Homo sapiens: one gene and its partner. The protein of the gene in region 2 interacts with the protein of the main gene of each other region in a biochemical or structural test. Each region holds a gene or a part of one and is shown on either strand. Other genes may lie near its edges.

What was found.
Region 1: the proteins of ATL1 (region 2) and SPAST form a complex in vitro, tested with the Homo sapiens proteins (one study listed by IntAct).

The regions. Positions count from the first base shown.
Region 1 is NC_000002.12:32,058,041-32,069,064, reverse strand, and holds the start of SPAST (spastin), read right to left. Parts: upstream 5,510-11,024; 5' UTR 5,234-5,509; coding exon 4,819-5,233; intron 1-4,818. UniProt on the Homo sapiens protein: ATP-dependent microtubule severing protein that specifically recognizes and cuts microtubules that are polyglutamylated.
Region 2 is NC_000014.9:50,582,812-50,593,936, forward strand, and holds part of ATL1 (atlastin-1), read left to right. Parts: intron 1-5,019; coding exon 5,020-5,267; intron 5,268-8,129; coding exon 8,130-8,264; intron 8,265-8,723; coding exon 8,724-8,828; intron 8,829-11,034; coding exon 11,035-11,085; intron 11,086-11,125.

The DNA of each region.
Region 1 (11,024 bases), on a different chromosome or scaffold from region 2:
ATTTTTGTATTTTTAGTAGAGACGGGGTTTCACTAATATGTTGGCCAGGCTGGTCGCGAACTTCTGACTACAAGTGATCCGCCTGCCTCTGCCTCCCAAAGTGCTGGGATAACAGGCATGGGCCACTGCACCCGGCTTGAGCCACCATGCCCAGCCTTTTTTTTTTTTTTTGATGGAGTCTCACTCTTCTCACCCAGGCAGGAGTGCAATGGGTGAGATCTCAGCTCACTGCAACCTCCACCTCCTGGGTTCAAGCGATTCTCCTGCCTCACCCTCCCGAGTAGCTGGGATTACACACACCCGCCACCACATCCGGCTAAAGTTTTACTTCATTTTTAAAGGAAAATGAATCTTTAAGTAATCCGTTTCAGTCTGAACTAATTTAATTTGGCATATTACGGCATCAGTTGTTGAACTAAAATCAAACTAAAGACCTGTCAAGGCTGGGCACGGTGGCTCACACCTGTAATCCTAGCAGTTTGTGAGGCCAAGGCGAGTGGATCACTTGAGGCCAGGAGTTCGAGAACAGCCTGGCCAACATGGTGAAATGCTGTCTCTACTAAAAATACAAAAATTGGCTGGGTGTGGGGTGGCACATGCCTGTAATCCCAGTTACTGGGGAGGCTGAGGCAGGAGAATCGCTTGAACCTGGGAGGTGGAGGTTGCAGTGAGCTGAGATCGCGCCATTGCACTCCAGCCTGGGTGAAGAAGCGAGACTCTGCCTCAAAAAAAAAAAAAAGAGCTGTCAACAGCCCATTCTGATGTCCACATTAGAAATCAAAATATGTGCCGGGCGCGGTGGCTCACGCCTGTAATCCCAGCACTTTGGGAGGCCGAGGCGGGTGGATCACGAGGTCAGGAGATCGAGACCATCCTGGCTAACACAGTGAAACCCCGTCTCTACTAAAAATACAAAAAATTAGCTGGGCATGGTGGCGGGCGCCTGTAGTCCCAGCTACTCGGGAAGCTGAGGCAGGAGAATGGCGTGAACCCGGGAGGCGGAGCTAGCAGTGAGCCGAGATCGCGCCACTGCACTCTAGCCTGGGCGACAAAGCGAGGCTCTGTCTCAAAAAAAAAAAAAAAGAAAAGAGAAAAGAAATCAAAATATAAAGAAAAAGTTGTGAACAGAAACATTATCAGTAGGAAGAGTATGAAATATGCATTACGCAGGAGAATGGCGTAAACTTAAACATACCACTTTACAATAAAACCTAATTTATTTTTTTTTTATTGTTCAAAATATTGTTGAAATTTCTCCAGCCTGGCTAACATAACAAGATCCTATCTCTAGCAAAAAAAAAAAAAAGAGGATCACTTAAGCCTAGGAATGAGCCTTGAGGCTGCAGTGAGCTATGATCACATTCCACTCCAGCTTGGGTAAGAGAGTGAAACACTGTCTCTAAAATAAATTAAATAATTATTTTTATATATTTAATATATCCAACTGAAAAATAAAAATGTTTAGGAGGATTTAAGTATAATAGATATATTCATATATGTGATACTGAAAGATTTAAGTCACCAGCCTGAGACCTGAGGTCTGAATTCTATTTCTTCCACTTATTCCTCACATGGAACTGCTATTTCTTCAAATCTAAGAGCTCAGGGTCTTTTATTTTTCATGCCTAGGTTTTCCTTAATTTCTCCTTTTATCCTACCTCCCAACTCCCATCAACCAACAGTGTTAACTAAAATTTCCTTGTGGTCGGTCACCGCGGCTCACACCTGTAATCCCAGCACTTTGGGAGGCCAAGGAGGGCGGTTCACTTGAGGTCAGGAGCTCGAAACCAGCCTGGCCAACATGGTGGAACCCCATCTCTACTAAAAACACAAAAATTAGCTGGGCGTGGTGGCATACACCTGTAATCCCAGCTGCTCAGGAGGCTGAGGCAGGAGAATCGCTTGAATCCGGGAGGCAGAGGTTGCAGTGAGCCAAGATCATACCATTGCACTCCAGCCTGGGCAACTGAGCGAGACTCCGTCTCAAAAATAAACAAATAAAAAAAATTTCCTTGCATGTTCTGACTTTCTCTTCCTAAATAAAACAATTAAAACAGTTTTTTTTTTTTTGGTTTTTTTTTTTTTTTTTTTTGAGACAGTTTTACTCCTGTCACCCAGTTCGGAGTGCAGTTGCACGATCTCAGCTCATTGCAGCCTGAACAACCTGAGCTCAAGTGATCCTCCTACCTCAGCCCCCCAAGTAGCTGGGACTACAGGCATTTGCCACTGCGCCTAGCTAATCTTTGTATTTTTCACAAAGACAGGGTTTCACTATGTTGCCCAGGCTGGTCTCAAACTCCTGGGCTCAAGCAATCCACCCACCTCAGCCTCCCAAAGTGCTGGAATTACAGGCATGAGCCACCGTGCCCAGCCAAAAATGACCTACTTTTTTTTTTCAAGACGGAGTCTTGCTCTGCCGCCCAGGCTGGAGTGTAGTGGCACGATCTCGGCTCACTGCAACCTCCACCTTCCAGGTTCAAGCACTTCTCTTGCCTCAGCCTCCTGAGTAGCTGGGACTACAGGCATGTGTCACCATGCCCAGCTAATTTTTGTATTTTTAGTAGAGATGGGATTTCACCATGTTGGCCAGGATGGTCTCAAACTCTTGACCTCATGATCCACCCGCCCCGGCCTCCCAAAGTGTTGGGATTACACGCGTGAGCCACCATGACTGGCCCAAAAAATGATCTACGCTTAAACATGTTCCTCTATTCTAAAACTTTGCAACCGTTTTAATTCTCCCCAAGGGATCCTGGATGTTCTTAAGAGGTGATAAAGAATGGAGCTTGCTGGGTGGGCACAGTGGCTGACACCTGTAATCCAAGCACTTGGAAGGTCGAGGCAGGCGAATCACCTGAGGTCAGGAGTTCGTGACCAGTCTGGCCAACATGGTGAAACACCATCTCTACTAAAAATACAAAAAATTAGCCAGCCGTGATAGGGCGCACCTGTGGTTCCAGCTACTCGGGAGACTGAGGCAAGAGAATCGCCTGCGTCTGGGAGGCAGAGGTTGCAGTAAGCTGAGATCACGCCACTGCACTCCAGTCTGGGTGACACAGGGAGACTCCATCTCAAAAAAAAAAAAAAAAAAGAATGGAGCAGTTAACAAAAAATTTCCTTCTACAAACACATAGTATTCTTAAATGTTAACACCCTCCTTGACCTCTCTTAACCGTCACTCTTTCCTTACTGTCCAAAACAATGAATAACTGCCTCTTTCCTTATATCCCACTTCCCACTCCCAGGCCCCACAAAGGAAACAGGTTTCAACAAGATTGAAATTCTAGAACAGTTTTTGGAGTTGGCAGTAGAGACAGACACTATGAATGAAGTGCAGATTGTTTCTGTTTTCACTAATGGACAATGCAAGTGAGTATCTAATTGAGGTGTGGTAGAAAAGTGGGTGTTTTTGGCAGAGGGAGAAGCAAGATCTCAGCATACTGGAAGTAAGGATAAAAGGGGAGAATTGTAAAAGTTAGACTTCTCCTAATTTCACTTATTTTCCATAAAAGAAATTTCATTATTAGCACAGGTTTGGAATAACCTCCTTTATCTTTTGGGCCTCATTTTCTTCATCTCTAAAATGCTGATACCAATAATACCTTCATCTCACAAAGTTATTGTGAGGATTAAATAACACTTTTCATGGTCTGGGATGGTTGCTATTTTTTTTAAAAAGAAAAAAGATAACACATGCAAAGCTAATAGCACAATGCCTGGCACATATAATAAAAAATGTTAGCTTAAGGCCAGGCGCGGTGGCTCATGCCTGTATTACCAGCACTTTGGGAGGCCGAGGCGACCCGATCACGAGGTCAGGAGATGGAGACCATCCTGGCCAACATGGTGAAATCCCTACTCTACTAAAAATACAAAAATTAGCCAGGCGTGGTGGTGCGTGCCTGTAATCCCAGCTACTCGGGAGGCTGAGGCAGGAGAATCGCTGGAACCAGGGAGTCGGAGGTTGCAGTGAGCCGAGACTGCACCATTGCACTCCAGCTTGGGCGACAGGGCGAGATTCCGTCTCAAAAAAAAAAAAAAGTTAGCTTAAAAGAAACCCGAAAGATGTAGTATCCTTGCTTTCATTCAGAAACATACATAGTTGTTTTAGGTTTTACTGTAAAGTGGTATGTTTAAGTTTACGCAATCCATTCATCAAACATTTCAACTTGGAAATTAAAGGCTACTTTGGAATACTGTTTTAATTAAAATCAAAGCAACAGGGGGAAAAGTTTTATGCTAAATATAACTTCATTGAAAAAGTATTCAGGAATCGTTGTACTGATAAAATGATTATCTTGATTAAAATGATGCAAATTCAACTGCAGTCATATGCAGCTATTTCTTTCAAAATTGTCACCATTTGTTCTTTTTTTCTGACACTACAATACTCTGCTTTCATTAAAAGCCAGTAAGGCGGCACTGCTTCTTCAATATCAAAACCTTTTGGAAACCTTGGTTCAGAGGAAGCTGCACACTCTTCACAGTGCTAGAAAGGATCAGTGTGGTCACTCTAGGACAAATGTCACTGTCATCAACACGTCTGGGTGTCTCATAGTGACCTGGGTCATGCAGAAGTGTGGGGGAAGGCTGGTGTCTGAAACAAAGTCGACAGCTACAGTGCCCTGAAAGGGGAGAGGTTTTAAGAATACTAGAAGATGAGGCTCCGACCTACGGGAAAGCAGTCTCCCGGGGCATATCAATTCCGGGGGTGCACCGTCCCCTCCCGCAGAAAAGGGACGCAGGTGTTGCCCTCCCCCGGCGACCCCACCGCCTTCTTCCCGGCGCCGCCGCCCCCTCCCCCAGCCCCCTAGTTACCTTTCTCATCCTCATCGATGCGCAGGGCAATGGAGATGTACTCGAAGGCCTGTTTGTGGAAGACTCGGACGCGCTCGGCCTCGCCGCCCGGCACCGGCGCCGGGGCCGAGGCCGAGGCAGGTGCTGGCGCGGCCCCGGAGCTCCTCTTGGCTGCCATGAGGGCGCGGGAGAAGCGCTGGCAGAGCCACACGAAGAGGAGCCCCAGGTGGAAGGCGACCAAACGCAGCAGCGCGAAGCCTACAAACAGCGGGTAGGAGAAATAGTACAGGTTCCGCTTATGCGGCGACTCGGGCGGAGGGGCCGGCCCGGCGGCGGGAGGGGCGGGGGCCAGGCAAGGGGGCGGAGGCCTGGGAGGCACCGGGTTGCTGGCGCCGCCGGAGCCTTTCTTCTTCCCTCGTCCACCCGGAGAATTCATTCACAGCTCTCACTGCCGCCGCCGCCATAACCCGCCTCCCGCAGACCGACGGGAACCAAGCGACGGCGGCAGCCACTGCTACGGCGGGGGCCACAGACCCCCGTGTGCCCGCCGGTCTCAGGAGCTCCGCACTGCCGCACGCTGCCCGCCGGCCCCGCCCCTTTCTCCTTCCTCGGCCAGGAGCACAACCCCTTCTCCTCCTGCAGTCGGTGGCTCGGGCCCCTCCCTTCCTGTCGCTGTCCTCTCCGCCGCCTGGTGGCTCCCAGCGGCGGCCGCGCACGCGCACGTCTTCCCGTGTTTTTCTCCGGCGCGCGCGCGCACGGCGCGTCTTTGTTGACCGGGGCCCCTGTACGCGTGTGCGGCCCCCGCCTCTCGGCTTTCCCACTCAACTACAGTTCCCAATGTGCAGTTCGGCTCACGTCGGCAGCCCTGGAGAGCTCCTGCCAGGAAGCCTTCGTAATCGATCCACGGAAGGGGGAATTGCGGCTTGGGGTCGCTCTGCTGGTTCGCTAGGCTCCTCTCTCAGTGTCGTCGTTTTCTTAGATTTCTTTCATCTTTTTCTGCCAGGCGACCTAAGTCTTCTCCGAAGGATAATTGGCCCATCTCAGAAGCAATGGATATCAATCTGGGAATTAAATTAGCCGGGCGTGGGGGCGCGCGCCTGTAGTCCCAGCTGGTTGGAAGGCTAAGGCCGGAGAATCGCTTGAACTCGGGAGGCAGAGGCTGCAAGTGAGCTGAGATCGCGCCACTGCACTCCAGCCTGGGCGACAGAGCGAGACTCCGTCTCCAGAAAAAATAAAATAAAAATTTAAAATCTGGGAATTATTTGAGAGGAAAGCAATTGTGAAGATAAGAAACTTCAGGTCACTGCAAACAACAGCAACAAAAATGTTAGCTCAGTGTGATGAGATCAACTAACCCAGGGGTTTAACTAAATTAGTGCATATTTAGATGTCTAATATGAAAGATAATTTATTTGAATAAGGGAAATCTTAGGTTTTGCATAGTTACCATCCCATAGTTTACTGAAGAATCTACACTTTTTTTTTAATCTACTCAGCATCCCTTCCTTTGGGAAACTACCTGCTTGTCTCTGCTCCCTGTATTCTAATGAGCTGCAAGCACAGAACCCAGACCGCAAAGGCGGAAGCAAACACTAGGTCAGTCAGATTCTCCTGGGACCTGGAATCTTGGCTGGAGACCCACCGAATAGAAAGTAACTGGAAACGAGTGCTCTTAAGAGCGGGTTTATCAATGCATCACATTGAGCTCCCCCAGAGCTGCTGGGTTCCTGACTGGTCACTTGGTTATGTAATCTATCCAATACACTAATCAGTCTGTTTCTCTGTTTCTCTCTTCCTCTCTCCTTTCCCCCTTCCTTCCTTTCGTCTTTTCCTCTCTCTCCCTCTCTCTCTATCTCCACGTCTTTTTTCTCTTCTCTTTCTCTTTTTACTTGAGTTAGCCATAATTATTTCTTGTTTCCTAAAACTAAGGAAGCCAAACTGATAAAAAGACTCCGTTATTTACAATGTGAGGTTTCCAAATGCCCCATGAGAGCTTCCAGCTTCCAAGAATCTCCACATTCTGCCACAGCTTTATTTTTTTATTTTTTGGACAGGGTTTCACTCCATTGCCCAGGCTGGAGTGCAGTGGCGCAAACAACATGACTCACTGCAACCTCCACCTCCCTGGCTCAGGTGATCCTTCCACCTCAGCCTCCCGAGTAGCTGGGATCACAGGCACACGCCACTGGGCCCGACTAATTTTTGTATTCTTTATAGAGCCAGGGTTTCACCATGTTGCCCAGGCTGGTCTCCAACTCCTGGGCTCAAGCAATCCGCCTGCCTCAGCCTTCCAAAGTGTTGGGATTACAGGCATGAGCCACCCCATCGCGCCCCCAGCTAATTTTTTTACTTTTTTGTTGAGACAGGGTCTTGCTATGTTTCCCAGGTTGGTCTTGAATTCCTGGGCTCAAGCAACCTGCCCGCCTCGGCCTCCCAAAGTGCTGGGATTACAGGCATGAGCCACAGCACCAGCCAATTTTACTTAATTATTCCCCGCCAGTACTGCCCTACAAATGTCACAGGCTATTGCAAAAATGACCTACTCCCTGTTTCCCTCTTATTGCTCCCCCTTCTCTGTGCTTATGCTAGACCCTCATTCTGAAATGCCCTCTTTCGGCCGGGTGTGGTGGCTCACGCCTGTAATCCCAGAACTTTGGGAGCCGAGGCGAGCAGATCACCGGAGGTCAGGAGTTCAAGAGCAGCCTGGCTAACATGGCAAAACTCCCTCTATACTAAAAATACAAAAGTTAGACAGGTGCATTCCTGTGGTGGTGGTGCATTCCTGTAATCTCAACTAGTGCGAGGCTGAGGCAGGAGAATCACTTGAACCTGGGAGGCTGAGGCCGCGGTGAGCCAAGATCATGCCAATGCACTGCAGCCTGGGCGACAGAGCGAGACTCTGTCTCAAAAGCAAACAACAAAAAATTTTTTTTAATGAAATGCCCTCTTTTAAATCTGATTCAGGGCCTGGCACGGTGGCTCACACCTGTAATCCCAACACTTTGGGAGGCCAAGGCAGGCGGATCACCTGAGGTCGGGAGTTCGAGACCAGCCTGACCAACATGGAGAAACCCTTTCTCTATTAAAAATACAAAACTAGCCGGGCATGGTGGCGCATGCCTGTAATCCCAGCTACTCGGGAGGCTGAGGCAGGAGAATCACTTGAACCCAGGAAGTGGAGGTTGCAGTGAGCCAAGATAGTGCCATTGCACTCCAGCCTGGGCAACAAGAGCGAAACTCCATCTCAAAAAAAAAAATTACATTTATACATATATCATATAAACAAGAAGTGTGTTACTTAAATGCACAATTTAAAGAAAAATAATAAGCAGCATTCCATTTAAGAAAAATGAATGTAACCAACTCCTCGAAGCACTCTGTGAGCTCCTCCCTAATCTCAATGTCTTGTCTCTTCCTCTAGAGGAAGCCACTATCCTGAATTTTATATTAATCATTCTAGTGTCTCATTTTTAGTTTGCAGTGTATTTATGTATTTCTAAACAATGTCTTGTATGATTTTGCCTCACTTTGACTTTATGGAAATGTAATCATATTTCAAGTATCCCTTGTTTGCTTTCCCTCCTCAAAATTTTTAAAATTTCATTTATTTTATTTTAAGAAAATAGAGATGGAGTCTCACTGTTGCCCAGGTTGATCTCGAACCCCTGGGCTCAAGTAATCCTCCTGTCTTGGTCTCCCAAAGTGCTGGGATTACAGGCATAAACCGCTATGCCTGGCTACCTACTTAATAATTAAGTGTTGAAATTCCTCCCTGTTGATTTCTATAACTGTGGTACATTTTCACTGCTATATAGTATTCCATTATATGAATTTACCACAACCTATTTTACTGTTCAACTATTGATGGATATTTAGTTTGATGCCAGTTTTTTTTCTTAAATAACTATCTTCCCTGTTATCCCTCCAGTCTTTACCACTAAAGAAAGTAACTTACTTTCTAACTTAGCCAAGATAGGGCCCAATAGTAGAATGGTTAAATGGTCCTGGAGTCAGACTGGTTGCATTTAGATCTGTGTTCCATCACTTTCGGTGATCTTGGATGAGTTACTCAGCTTCCACATCTACAGTATAACACTAGAGTAGTAAGCAGTGCCTGGAATCAAGTTGATACTTGATTATTTTTTTATTTTTTGTTTTTTTTAATTTTTTTAAATTATCTATTTTTTGTTTTAAAAGTTCTTTTGTAGAGACAAGGTCTCTCTCACCGTGTTGCCCAAGCCAGTTTTGAACTCCAGCCCTCAAGCAATCCTCCCACTTCAGCCTTCCAAAGTGCTAGGATTACAGGCATGAGCCACCATGTTCAGTTTATTTCTATTTTTATTTTATTTTTTACTCACCATGATACTAACAAGGAGATTTGTTGGTTTTTTGTTTTTGTTTTTGTTTTTGAGACAAGGTCTCACTCTGTCACCCAAGCTGGAGTACAGTGGCGCCATCAGAGCTCACTGCAGCCTTGACCTCCCTGGCTCAAACCACCCTCTTGCCTCAGCCTCCTGAGTAACTGGGACTACAGGCATGCACCACCATGCTGGGGTAGTTTTTTTTAAAATTTATTTATTTTTTAAGATGGAGTCTCGCTCTGTCGCCAGACTGGAGTGCAGTGGTGCGATCTCGGCTCACTGCAACCTCCGACTCCCTGGTTCAAGCGATTCTCCTGCCTCAGCCTCCCGAGTAGCTGGGATTACAGGGATGTGCCACCATGCCCAGCTAATTTTGTATTTTTAATAGAGATGGGGTTTCTCCATGTTGTCCAGGAGGGTCTTGATCTCCTGACCTCGTGATCCGCCCGCCTCAGCCTACCAAAGTTCTGGGATTACAGGTGTGAGCCACTGCATCTGTCTGAATTTTTTGTTTTTTAGTTGAGATGAGGTCTCACTATGTTGCCCCAGATGGTCTTGAATTCCTGAGCTCAAGTGATCCACTCACCTTGACCTCCCAAAATGCTGGGATTACAGGCATGAGCCACTATGCTTGGCCATGAGGAAGATAGTTTTTGAATAAAGAATGGTTCTCCGACATTTCCTCTGCACTTTCACTATACTCTAGCTAATATAGACTGTTGGTCTGTACCTACTTTGCTCTTTTCCAGGACTACAATTACTCTCCTGTCATTTTTCATTCACTTAGAATGGCCTCGCCTCCTACTTCCACTGTCAAAGTCCTTCAAGACTTACCTCTAATGTTATATTTTTTTTTTTTTTTTTTTTTTTGAGACTGAGTCTCACTCTGTCACCCAGGCTGGAGTGCCATGGCACGATCTCAGCTCAATGCAACCTCTGCTTCCCATGTTCAAGTGGTTCTCCTGCCTCAGCCTCCTGAGTAGCTGCGACTACAGACGCGTGCCACCACGCCCGGCTAATTTCTTGTATTTTTAGTAGAGACGGGTTCATCGTGTTAGCCAGGATGGTCTCGAACTCCTGACCTTGTGATCCACCTTCCTTGGCCTCCCAAAGTGCTGGGATTACAGGTGTGAGCCACCGCGTCCAGCTCTGTTATATTCTTGATAAATTATTCCATTATCACCTCCAGCAGAAATGATCTTGTTTTTCAGTTGTTATGACAATATGGTTGTGTTACTCTGTGGCTCTTATACTATATTGCCCTGCAGGATGATTATTTAAACACTTCATCACCTCTTGATATAGATTGTAAACTTACTGAAGGCAGTGGTCACACTTTATACATTTTGCCTCACTTTTTGCATCCAGCCTGACACCTTGCTTATGGTACTCATTTAATAAATATGAGAAATTTGAAAAATGATTCAAACATAATGATTGTGTTAGATTTCTGATGCTATGTAATATACCACTCCAAAACTCACTGGCTTAAGATAGCAGACATTTATTTACACACAACTTTGTGACTCAGCAATTTGGGGTAAGTTCAGCTGGATGGTTCTTCTGATGGCCTTGCCTGTGGATCATTCCTGTGGATGTAGTCATCTGATGGCTTGACCGAATGGCTGTATGGCCTAGCTAGCCTCATTCATATGTTCAGAGGTTGATTGTGGCTATTAGCTGGGACATATGTCTCTAGCAGGATAGCCCTGACTTCTTTACATTGCATCTGGTTTCCAAGAGAGTGTGAGTGGAAGGTGTAAGTTCTCTCGAAACCTAAAATCCAAAGTTGCACAGTGTCATTTGTACTACATTCCATTGTCAAAGCAAGTCAGAAGGCCAACTCTAGTGCAATATATGGGAAAA
Region 2 (11,125 bases):
TTATGAATATACATGCACAATTCCTAAACAAAATCTTAGCAAACTGAATCCAACATTATACTATACCCTGAGACTATTAGGTTTATATAAAAAGTGCAAATATATATTATTTGCTACACTGATATGTTGGATGTGAAAAGCTATATGATCACCTCAATAGATGCAGAAGAGATTATTTGATAAAATTCATTATTTGTTTGTGATTTTTAGAAACCCTTAGTAAACTACACATAGAATTTCCTTCATCTGATATGATAAAATGTATCTACCAAACCAAGCCCAACAAAACTGTAACAAAAGTAACCCCAATAGGCAAATATTGGAGACATTCCCTTTAAAATCAGGAAGTTATGCCTACTGAAATCAAAAGTTATGCCCATTATCACCTCTTCTATTCAACATTGCCTTGAATGTCTAATAAGTTAAGAAAAAGAAAAGACATACATAAAGATTGAAAAGTTGGAAACTGTCATTATTTGAAAATTGTATTTCTGTTTCTACATTTAAAAAACCCAAAAGTATCTACATAAATTTTACAGGAAATAATAAAGTTTAGTAAATGCTTCAATATGAGACCAATGCATTAAAGCTAATTATAGTTCTTTATCCAAACAACAACTAGAAAGTATAACTAAAACAACAACAAATAAACCAGTCATAGTTAGCAACAAAAACTACAGTGCACCTGGGACTAAATGTAATAAACCTCTTCCTACTCCCCCAAATTATAAAAACATTACCAAAGGGAATTAAAGACCAAACATAGATGGAGAGCTAGATCATGTTAATGTATTAGAAGACTTAATAGCATGAAGGTACTGATTCATTTCAAACTGATCTATAAATGTAACTTCAGTAAAGAGTTCAACTAACAGATTGATTTTAATATTTATATGGAAAGGGTTAAAATAGCCAAGACCAATAATAATTAGAAGGATAGGAGGTGCTTGCCATATTATATACAGTAACTTTTTATGAAGCTATTTTGAATAGGATAGTGTAAAATTGGTGCTGGTGTAGAGAAATTGATGAATGGATCAGAACTGAGAGCTCAGAAATGAGTCAGTGTGTATGTGGGGGTGTGTGTTTGTGTAAAACTCTTACTTATGACAAAGATCTCATGGCAGACCACTTGAGGAAAGAAGGGGCTTTGACAGAGCTCTGAAAAAATTTGTTTCTCATATTTAAAAAAGAAATGGCTTTTATCTTCCACCCTACAAATAACAACTTCTGATGGACTAGGAACTTAAGTATCAAAAGCAAACTTTAAAACATAGAAAAGTCTGGGCACCGTGGTTCATCCCTGTAATGCCAGCACTTTGGGAGGCCAAGGCACGTGGATCACTTGAGTCCAGGAATTTGAGACCAGCCTGAGCAACATGGTGAGACCCCATCTCTACAAAAAATACAGAAATTAGTGGGACTTGGTGGTTGTGTGTGCCTGTAGTCCCATCTACTCGGGAGGTTGAGGTGGGAGGATCGATTGAGCTCAGGAAGCAGAGGTTGCAGTGAGCTGAGCTCACACCACTGCACTCTGCCTGGGTAACAGAGTGAGACCCTGTCTCAAAAAACAACAAACAAATAAACTTAGAAGAATATATGTGACTATTGGCCGGGCGCGGTGGCTCACGCCTGTAATCCCAGCACTTTGGGAGGCCGAGGCGGGCAGATCACGAGGTCAGGAGATCGAGACCATCCTGGCTAACATGGTGAAACCTTGTCTCTACTAAAAATAAAAAAATAAAAAATAAAAAATGCGAGGTGGCGGGCACCTGTAGTCCCAGCTATTCAGGAGGCTGAAGCAGGAGAATGGCGTGAACCCGGGAGGCGGAGCTTGCAGTGAGCCGAGATCGCGCCACTGCACTCCAGCCTGGGCGACAGAACGAGACTCTGTCTCAAAAAAATAAATAAATAAATAAAAAATAAAATAAAATAAAATAGAATATATATGACTATCTTTCAGATCTTGTATGTGGAATCATTTCTTAAACATGGTATACAAAATGTTAACCATAAAAGAAAATATTAATAAAATCTATTACATTAAAATTAAGAATGCCTTTTCATCAATTATAGCTTAAGGAAAATGAAAAGGCAAACTCTTAGAAACTAGAAGACTCTTGCTATGCATGTAACTAACAAAGGGATAGCATTCAAAATACATAAAGAACTACAAATCAGTAAGAAAAAGACAAACTACCTAATAGAAAAACGGATAAAAGGAGTACTTATCTTATTAGCAATTAGAGAAATGTATATCAAGACCACAGTGAGATAACATTTTATACCTCTGCAACTGACAAAAACAAAGTCAGATAAAACCAAGTGTTAGAAAGGATATGGATCAATAGGATGTTAAATTGCTGGCGGAAGTGAAACATTTATATAGCCACTTAGAAAAAGACAATTTTGCTCCATGTTTTAAAGTTGAATATTTGAAAAACTTACAACCCAGAAATTCCATTTCTATGTGCATTCTCCAGTACCTTTTGCATATGTGTAGTTTGTTGCAAACAATTATTTCAGTCTATAGAAAGTTATGATCTAGTTTTCTGCCCCAAAGCTGTTTCTCTATCCAAAATATTATGTCTAGCTTGGGTCTGTGATTCACATTTGTGTGCTCAGATCATAATTAAATCATAGGCAAGGAGCGTCATCAAATAAAATATGTATTTGCTATTCTCAAAAAGGGCCTTTGTACTGAGACTGAAATTAGGTGGTAGGTAGGACTGTAATCAGACATGAATAGATAATAGTATTAATAACAGTCACCATTCATTAAGCATGTACTATTTGTCAGATTCTTCAATCTTTATTTAATGGAAATTACTTTGTTAAGTCTTCACAAAGGCTTTCTGATATGGGTACCATTATGAATCTTTTTAAAATGGAGCATAGTGAGCCATTGGGAAGCTAAATAATTTCCACAACTTTATGTTGTAAATTGTAAGGCTGGGATTTAAACAAAGGCTCTCTGACTCCAGCACCTGTGAAATGGCAATATAGAAGCTATTATCTTTCAGATAAAAAGTCAACTTTTCTTAACTTTGCAGAGAGAACAACTCTGATTCGTGGCTATAGGCAATGGTCTGTTGTCTCTAGATGCTTTGTATGATTGTTCAGAAAGTAGTGGTGTATACTTATCTCTACTCATGCAAAACTAAAATTATATATTTTCAGTATTTCAATAGCATTATTTTATAGATGAACAGCAATAAAGTTATCAATGTGATATATATATATCAATGTGATCTGAAGACTTATTTAAAATTATGCCAAGAGATGATTGCCTTGCTTTTATCTAGTTATAAAACTTCTTATCAAATAGACATCATGAAGAATGTCTACCTAAAGATATTTTCAAAAATTTAGATAAAAGATTATTTAAGAGTCCAGTTTGTTTCAAAATTATTATCATTGTCTTAGTCACTCTGGGCTGCTGTAACAGAAAATCATAGACTGGGGTGGCTTAAACAACAAACATTTATTTCTCACAGTTCTGGCAGCTGGATGAGATGAGACTGCCAGCAGGGCTGGGTTTTTTTGTAAGGGTCTTCCTCCTGGTTCATAGACTGCTTTCTTCGTGTATCCTCATAATTCAGAGAAAAGGGGCTCTGGTTCCTTAATTTTCTTATAAGGGAACTAACTCTATGATGGGAGACCCTCGTAACTTAATCTAAGCATAATCTAAGGCCTCCCAAAGGCCTCATCTCTAACATTGGGGATTAAGGTTTCTACAATAGCAATTATTGAGGGTTTCTTTGAGGCTAGGTCATATATCTGATCTGAGGAATTAATTGGTGTATGTATAGACTTTCTGTTCTTATGATATAAAGCAAACGAGCCTATGTATGTGTTGTCCAAAAGTTATTTGATTGCTACCAAAGAGGCAGAATTTTTTTTTTTTTATTGTAGTAGAAAGATCTGGGATGAAAGTTTTGACTCTTGCAATCTAATCCCAGTTTGGCAGTTACCGTCCATGTGAACTTGGACCTGTAATCTGTCACTTTCTAATAGTTGTGCTCTTGGGAAATTTAATTAGATTCTTAATTTTCTCATGTGTCAAAAATACAGATAATAATAAATACCGTACTGGAACATTACAAAGATTAAATAAATAACATGAGAAAGATATAGAAATCCTATATGAGGAAGTCTACCATTTCCTTCCTTCTAAATTCCATTTCCATCTCTTGGGCAAGGTCAGTCACATCTTTGGCTTTAATTTCCTCATCTATAATAATACCAATAGCATGCTTGAGAATCTGTGATTCTGAGCCCTTCTAGGTATTTCTTCCTATATATGTTCAGCTTTAAAAAGTATTGCAAGGATCCTTTATGTAAATAAGCTATTTCTAGGGGATAAAGAAAGTGTGAACTACAACCATTTTATTCCTCTGCTCCAAAAGTAGAGTGCTTTGCTTTGATTTTCTTTCTGACTCAGCAGACAGAGACATCTGCACTGACTTAGAGTTTTCTTGAAAAATTTTTTTGATTCAGTCATATGATCAGAAAGAACAAATGTAAGTCCTCCTGGGATATAGTGTGAATGACATTAAAATATGTCATTAAAACAAACATTTCTTTTCTTTCTTTCTTTTTTTCTTTTTCTTTTTTGAGACAGGGTCTCCCTCTATTGTCCAGGCTGGAGTGCAGTGGCACAATCATATCTCACTGTAGCCTTGACCTCCTGGGCTCAAGTGATCCTCCCACCCCCGCCTCCTGAGAGCTGGGACCACAGGCACGTGCTACCACACCTGACGAATTTTAAAATTTTTTGTATAGACAGGATCTCACTATGTTGCCCAGGGTGCTCTTGACTCCTGGGCTCAAGCGATCCTCCCACCTCAGCCTCCCAAGGTGCTAGGATTACAGGCATGAGCCACTGCACCCAGCATAAAATGAGCATTTATAATTCCAGTATGCTCCTGTGTCGGATGTTTGAGAGTTAAGAGGTACATATACATTTCTTGGCACTTTGAGATGATTAGCTGAACCAGTCACTGCTCTGTTCAACAGGTGGATTTTCGGAAAAGACATATGAATGGAGCTCAGAAGAGGAGGAGCCAGTGAAAAAGGCAGGACCAGTCCAAGTCCTCATTGTCAAAGATGACCATTCCTTTGAGTTAGATGAAACTGCATTAAATCGGATCCTTCTCTCGGAGGCTGTCAGAGACAAGGAGGTTGTTGCTGTATCTGTTGCTGGAGCATTTAGAAAAGGAAAATCATTCCTGATGGACTTCATGTTGAGATACATGTACAACCAGGTATGCAGGAAGTACTTTAAAAAGTTTTCTTTCTTCTGTGCTTCTGTCACTTCATGTTTTTATTTCATGGTGTTCAAAATTTTCATTTCTATTATTATGTACCCTATATATGAACCAGCTAAAGAAATGCTGTGGTGTAACCATTCCAACCTCAGTGCTTTGGGGACCAAACTACACAGACCAATTTTCTCTGAAGCTGCTTTGCTGCATTTCCCTTAGAATATAACTTATATTTTTATTCTTTTAAAAATAGGCACATAATATTCTGATTATAGACTTAAATGTTATAGTGTTTAAAATGTCACATAATTTTTGTATTGTAATCACTTTTTTCCAACATTTAGTATGAAATATTTCAAGCATATAGCAAAGTTAAAAAAATTTTATACTAAACATCTTGGTATCCACCACCCAGATTCTACCATTAACATTAGTATTCCTGCTTTATCACTTATGACTCCATCTATTCATCCCTCTTTCCAGCCATCACTCCAAGTTATTCTTTGATGCATTTGAAAATAAATTGCTGGCCGGGCACTGTGGCTCACGCCTGTAATCCCAGCACTTTGGGAGGCCGAGGTGGGTGGATCACGAGGTCAAGAGATCAATACCATCCTGGCCAACATGGTGAAACCCTGTCTCTACTAAAAAAAAACACACAAAAATTAGCTGGGTATGTTTTCCTTGTCCTTCAAGGTTATTTTTCAGGCTTAGGATTTTTATGAATATCTCAATGTAGATCATTGACTCAGAGTGAATGTTATGGAAATGTTATTATGCTAATTAATAATAATCACAATTTATTCATTGAAGTATGCATCCCAAGACATTTTTCCAGGTAATACCTTATTGGAAAAATTTCAATTTCTACCTCAATAGTAATTATTTATTGACTACCTGCTAAATGTTCTAGATTGTGCTAGGCACTATGGTGGATACCAAAGAAAACATACCATAGATTTTGCACTTAGGCATCTCATGGTTTGGCCAAGGAGACAGAATAACAATAGGTGAAATATTTAGAGCATCATTACATGGTGATATGGTGACAGATATATTTTTTCTTTTCTTTCTTTCTTTTTTTTTTTTTTTTTTTTTGATACAGAGTTTCACTCTTGTTACCCAGGCTGGAATGCAGTGGCGCAATCTTGGTTCACTGCAACCTCTGCCTCCCGGGTTCAAGGATTCTCCTGCCTCAGCCTCCCAAGTAGCTGGGATTACAAGCATGCGCCACCACATCTGGATAATTTTTTGTATTTTTAGTAGAGACAGGGTTTCACTATGTTGACCAGGCTGGTCTCAAACTCCTAACCTTGTGATCCACCTGCCTCGGCCTCCCAAAGTGCTGAGATTACAGACATGAGCCACCATGCCCAGCCTGATCGACGTATTTCTAAGTGTAGTTCAGGGAAGGGCATATTGTAGGCAAAAGTAACTGGAGAAAGCTTCATAGAGATATTGGAAGTTAGAATAGATTTTGAAGATGTGTGGATCTGGACCAGAAAAGGAAGAATGGACATTCTGGACTATGAGGAATAAGTATAATATATGTATTAAACAGAGTGTACACCTTCTTCCCTAGAGTGGAAATTAAGTATTGGAGATGAAGAAGAAATAAGATTGAATAGGTTATTGAGCCAGATAATAGAACAAATTCACAGAAGAACCAAAGCTCTTGATAACGGTCTAAAATGCCTTTTAGAACAAGATAGGATATAATTAAATACATTTTTCTTTAAATTAGTTTATGTAGATTTTTTATCAGTCCAAGTAGTCCTCTCCCAAATTCCTCTGCATTCGTTACTGTAAGGTTTTAGATTGGACAATTATCTAATGAGATCTTCCAAAAACTAATAACTTATTCTCTGTAACAGATATCAAAATGGGGGTAACTACTATCAACCAAGGTCACCAATTACTGACTTACTAAATCTATGGGATATTTTCCATGCCTTATCCAACTTGATCTTCAGCCTTTAAACAATTGATAATTTTTCCTATTCTGTCTTCCTTTGGCTTCTCAAACTCCACTTGCATCAGTACTTGTCTATTCCTTCCTGCTGTCCTGGCCCTGGTCAGACCTTCAATCATATTTTTGACCTTTATTATAGCACCCCCACCTTTATCTTTTCTAGCTATCATTTCCCTTCCCTACTAACTAGCCCTACCTACTTCTAGAATAGTATCTTTCTACCACAACTATGATGATAATTCATCTCTGCTTCTTCATAACTTTCCGTCGCCTGCAGGATAAAATCTGACTCCCTTAAGGACCTTACAAGGTCTTTCAGAATCTGGCTGTCTGTCCAGCCTCTTCCTGCTACTTGCTTCCTCCTCCCACAAAACCAAAGCATAATATGCTCCCTACTTCCTTCCTTTCTGCCTGCCTGCCTGCTTGCCTTCCTTTCTGGAATGCCTTCTCCAAATTTGCTTCCCTGGAAAATTCCTAAATATTTTTCAAGTCTTAGCTCAAACATCCTATGTGGTCTTGCCTGACCAATGGTTAGTTATTTATTTTCTATGCTACCATTTATGCATTATATATACTTCCATTTTGGCATGCATTTATTGCATCATAATGGTTTGTTTGCATGTCTGTCTCGCTGTTAGGCTGTGAATTTCCTCTGGTCTGCAATGATATCTTTTCATTTTTATATCCCCAGGACATATCAAAAATGTGGCAGATGGTTGCTCCTCTGTAATTATTTTTTGGATGAATAAAGTGATGGTATCAATGCAATAGATGTGCATATGTTGTTTCCTTTTAACTCGAATTGGAGAGGGATAAGAATCAGAATGAATGAATGGAAAAAACTATATACACATATCAAGTTCCATATCATAGACTTTATCATTTTATAGGAATCAGTTGATTGGGTTGGAGACTACAATGAACCATTGACTGGTTTTTCATGGAGAGGTGGATCTGAGCGAGAGACCACAGGAATTCAGATATGGAGTGAAATCTTCCTTATCAATAAACCTGATGGTAAAAAGGTATGATGCTAACTTCCTAAATAAAATTGAGTTTTCACTTATAACAGTTACTACTTTTTAGGATCCTTGAAGTTGCACTTTTGAAAATTAATTTTGACCATTTGACATGAAGCTTAAAGTGGGGTAGCATCCTATAGCATGATCTTTGTTTCCCTTTCTTGTGATCAGAGTAGGCGAAATTATAACGATGATAGAACAGCAGATCAGCAAGTAACATCTGTATTTTGTTTCACTGCTACATAAAGTTTCTGTTACGTTGGATTACTAGTAAAAATTACTTATAATAGTAATCAGCTGTTAATATTTTTATTTTCTGTGGCATTCATGGCATGTGTAAGAAATTATCTAAAATAGTATTGATTAATAATGGTTTGCTTTAGTTCTTATATTAATATTATGGTAACCCTAATGACCTAGATGTTCTATAAAATATCAATAATGTACTCTTCTTGCCTGTAGGTTGCAGTGTTATTGATGGATACTCAGGGAACCTTTGATAGTCAGTCAACTTTGAGAGATTCAGCCACAGTATTTGCCCTTAGCACAATGATCAGCTCAATACAGGTATGAAATAAGCCCATTTTGATGATGTTTCTTTAACTAAAAATTATGAGTATATGTGTTTCTACATACATGTTATAATTAGATAAACAACAGAAATTGGGAATCATATATATTGTTTGACTCAATTAGCATACGAGTTCTCGTGATTTCTGTGAGAGTGGAATTGTTTTTGTTACTGTAGTTTAATTACTGACAAACTTTCAAATTGACTGCTTTGGTTAGAAAAGGTCATATTATCTTATTGGGATTTTTGTTGTTGTTGTTTAAAGCCTACAATAAACTCAGTAACATAAATCTTATATGCGTATACATTGAGACCATCTATTGTAAGTTATGTTTAATGAAACAGTGTTTATAAATATAAATTTTGTTCTACATAGCCAGTAGAAACATTTCTAAATGTAAAAACATTTACATGTGTTCATAGCTTTTAAAAACACCTTAATGTACATTTAGGAAAGTAAATAGCTTATATATAAAATTTATCTTTCTTTCCTTTCCTTTTTTCTTTCACTTTTTTAAAAGTCTTATTTTTGAGGTTATTGTGGGCTTTCTAAATTGTCCTGAAAATCCTTGTAGAGTTTTATTAGAACCATAGAATCCATAGCATAAAAGATTTTAAGACTATTTTTAGATATTTTCAATCCACTGGCAAAAGCAAAAAGAGAGTGGCCAAGGAACAGGGCAGATCAATAAAAAAAGGTAAGATAGCTTAAAAAGGCAGAAAAGGCAAAGCAGTTAGGATGAGTGAGTCAAGACTAAAATTACAAGCAAGCATAGAGAATGGAGCTAGTGAACCAGCAACAAGGGCGTCATATATGATTAGGACAACCAAGACAGGGTAAACAGAAGGAGGAAGGAAGACTGAATTTATTAAATAAAGGACTTTAAAGTAAAAGTCATAAAAAAAAAAGTCATGGTTATAACCTACTTAATCAACTTTTAAAAATTAACTTTTCTTTCAGTTGACAAATAAAAATTATATATATTGGCCAGGCACGGTGGCTCACGCCTGTAATCCCAGCACTTTGGGAGGCCGAGGCGGGCGGATCACGAGGTCAGGAGATCGAGACCATCCTGGCTAACACGGTGAAACCCCGTCTCTACTAAAAATACAAAAAATTAGCCGGGCATGGTGGCAGGCGCCTGTAGTCCCAGCTACTCGGGAGGCTGAGGCAGGAGAATGGCGTGAACCCAGGAGGCAGAGCACTTGCAGTGAGCCGAGATTGCGCCACTGCACTCCAACCTGGGTGACAGGGCGAGACTCCCGTCTCAAAAAAAAAAAAAAAAATATATATATATATATATGTGTGTGTGTGTGTGTGTAAATTATATATATATGTGTGTACATATATCTGTATATATATAATGTACAATATGATATTTTGAATACACACATTGTATAAGCCTTTAAAATACTGACTTAATCTAATTTATTGTAATTCACAGTGTAAGCCATACTTATACAAGCCTATTTAAACCAGATTGACTTTGCCTTATCAGTATTACTCATTATTTATATTTGACCTGAATACATTGAATATTTTCAGAGAAAAATCTGCTAATTCCTTAGTAATGACTTTTTTTAATTATGTGAGAAATGATGATCTGTTATTTAAATAAGTATACAGAGCATTCTTTTTATATCAGTACATAAATATATAAGCCTCCTTAACTTTTCTTTGAAGTTAATGATATTTATTTCCCTCAAAAAATGTCATCTTAATGCTGTTATCACATATATATATAAGGATGTGAGCATGATATTCAGAACCTAACTTCCATGTGATGAAACTCTGTATAGACATAAATAAAATGATTAATTGTGAAGAAGTCAACATGATTTTTCAAAACAAAATTTTCCATATGGCTTGCTGAGATTTAGATTGTTATTATTTTGTCTTGCTTGGAAGAATGAGTTTTTTTGACTAATTGCATAAATTAGGTTCATAAAATAATTTTAATATTCCATCTCCAGAGCAGGTGACTACTGTATTTCTGGAACCATTTTATAATCATTGTTCATTCCTTATTGTCTCTCAAGCTTATTTTACTTCTCTCTCAAGGTCTTACAAATATCATGTAAGCATGTACATAAGAGAGTCCATTTTGTGGTAACTGATATTTTTAAAAGTAGGGAATGATGAAGTAAGTGCTTAGGATGATGCCAGTTATCTTATCATTGTAATTTTATTTCTTTATCAAGGTATATAACTTATCCCAAAATGTCCAGGAGGATGATCTTCAGCACCTCCAGGTAACAATATTTATTTTCTTTTTTGTGTATCTGGTAGTCT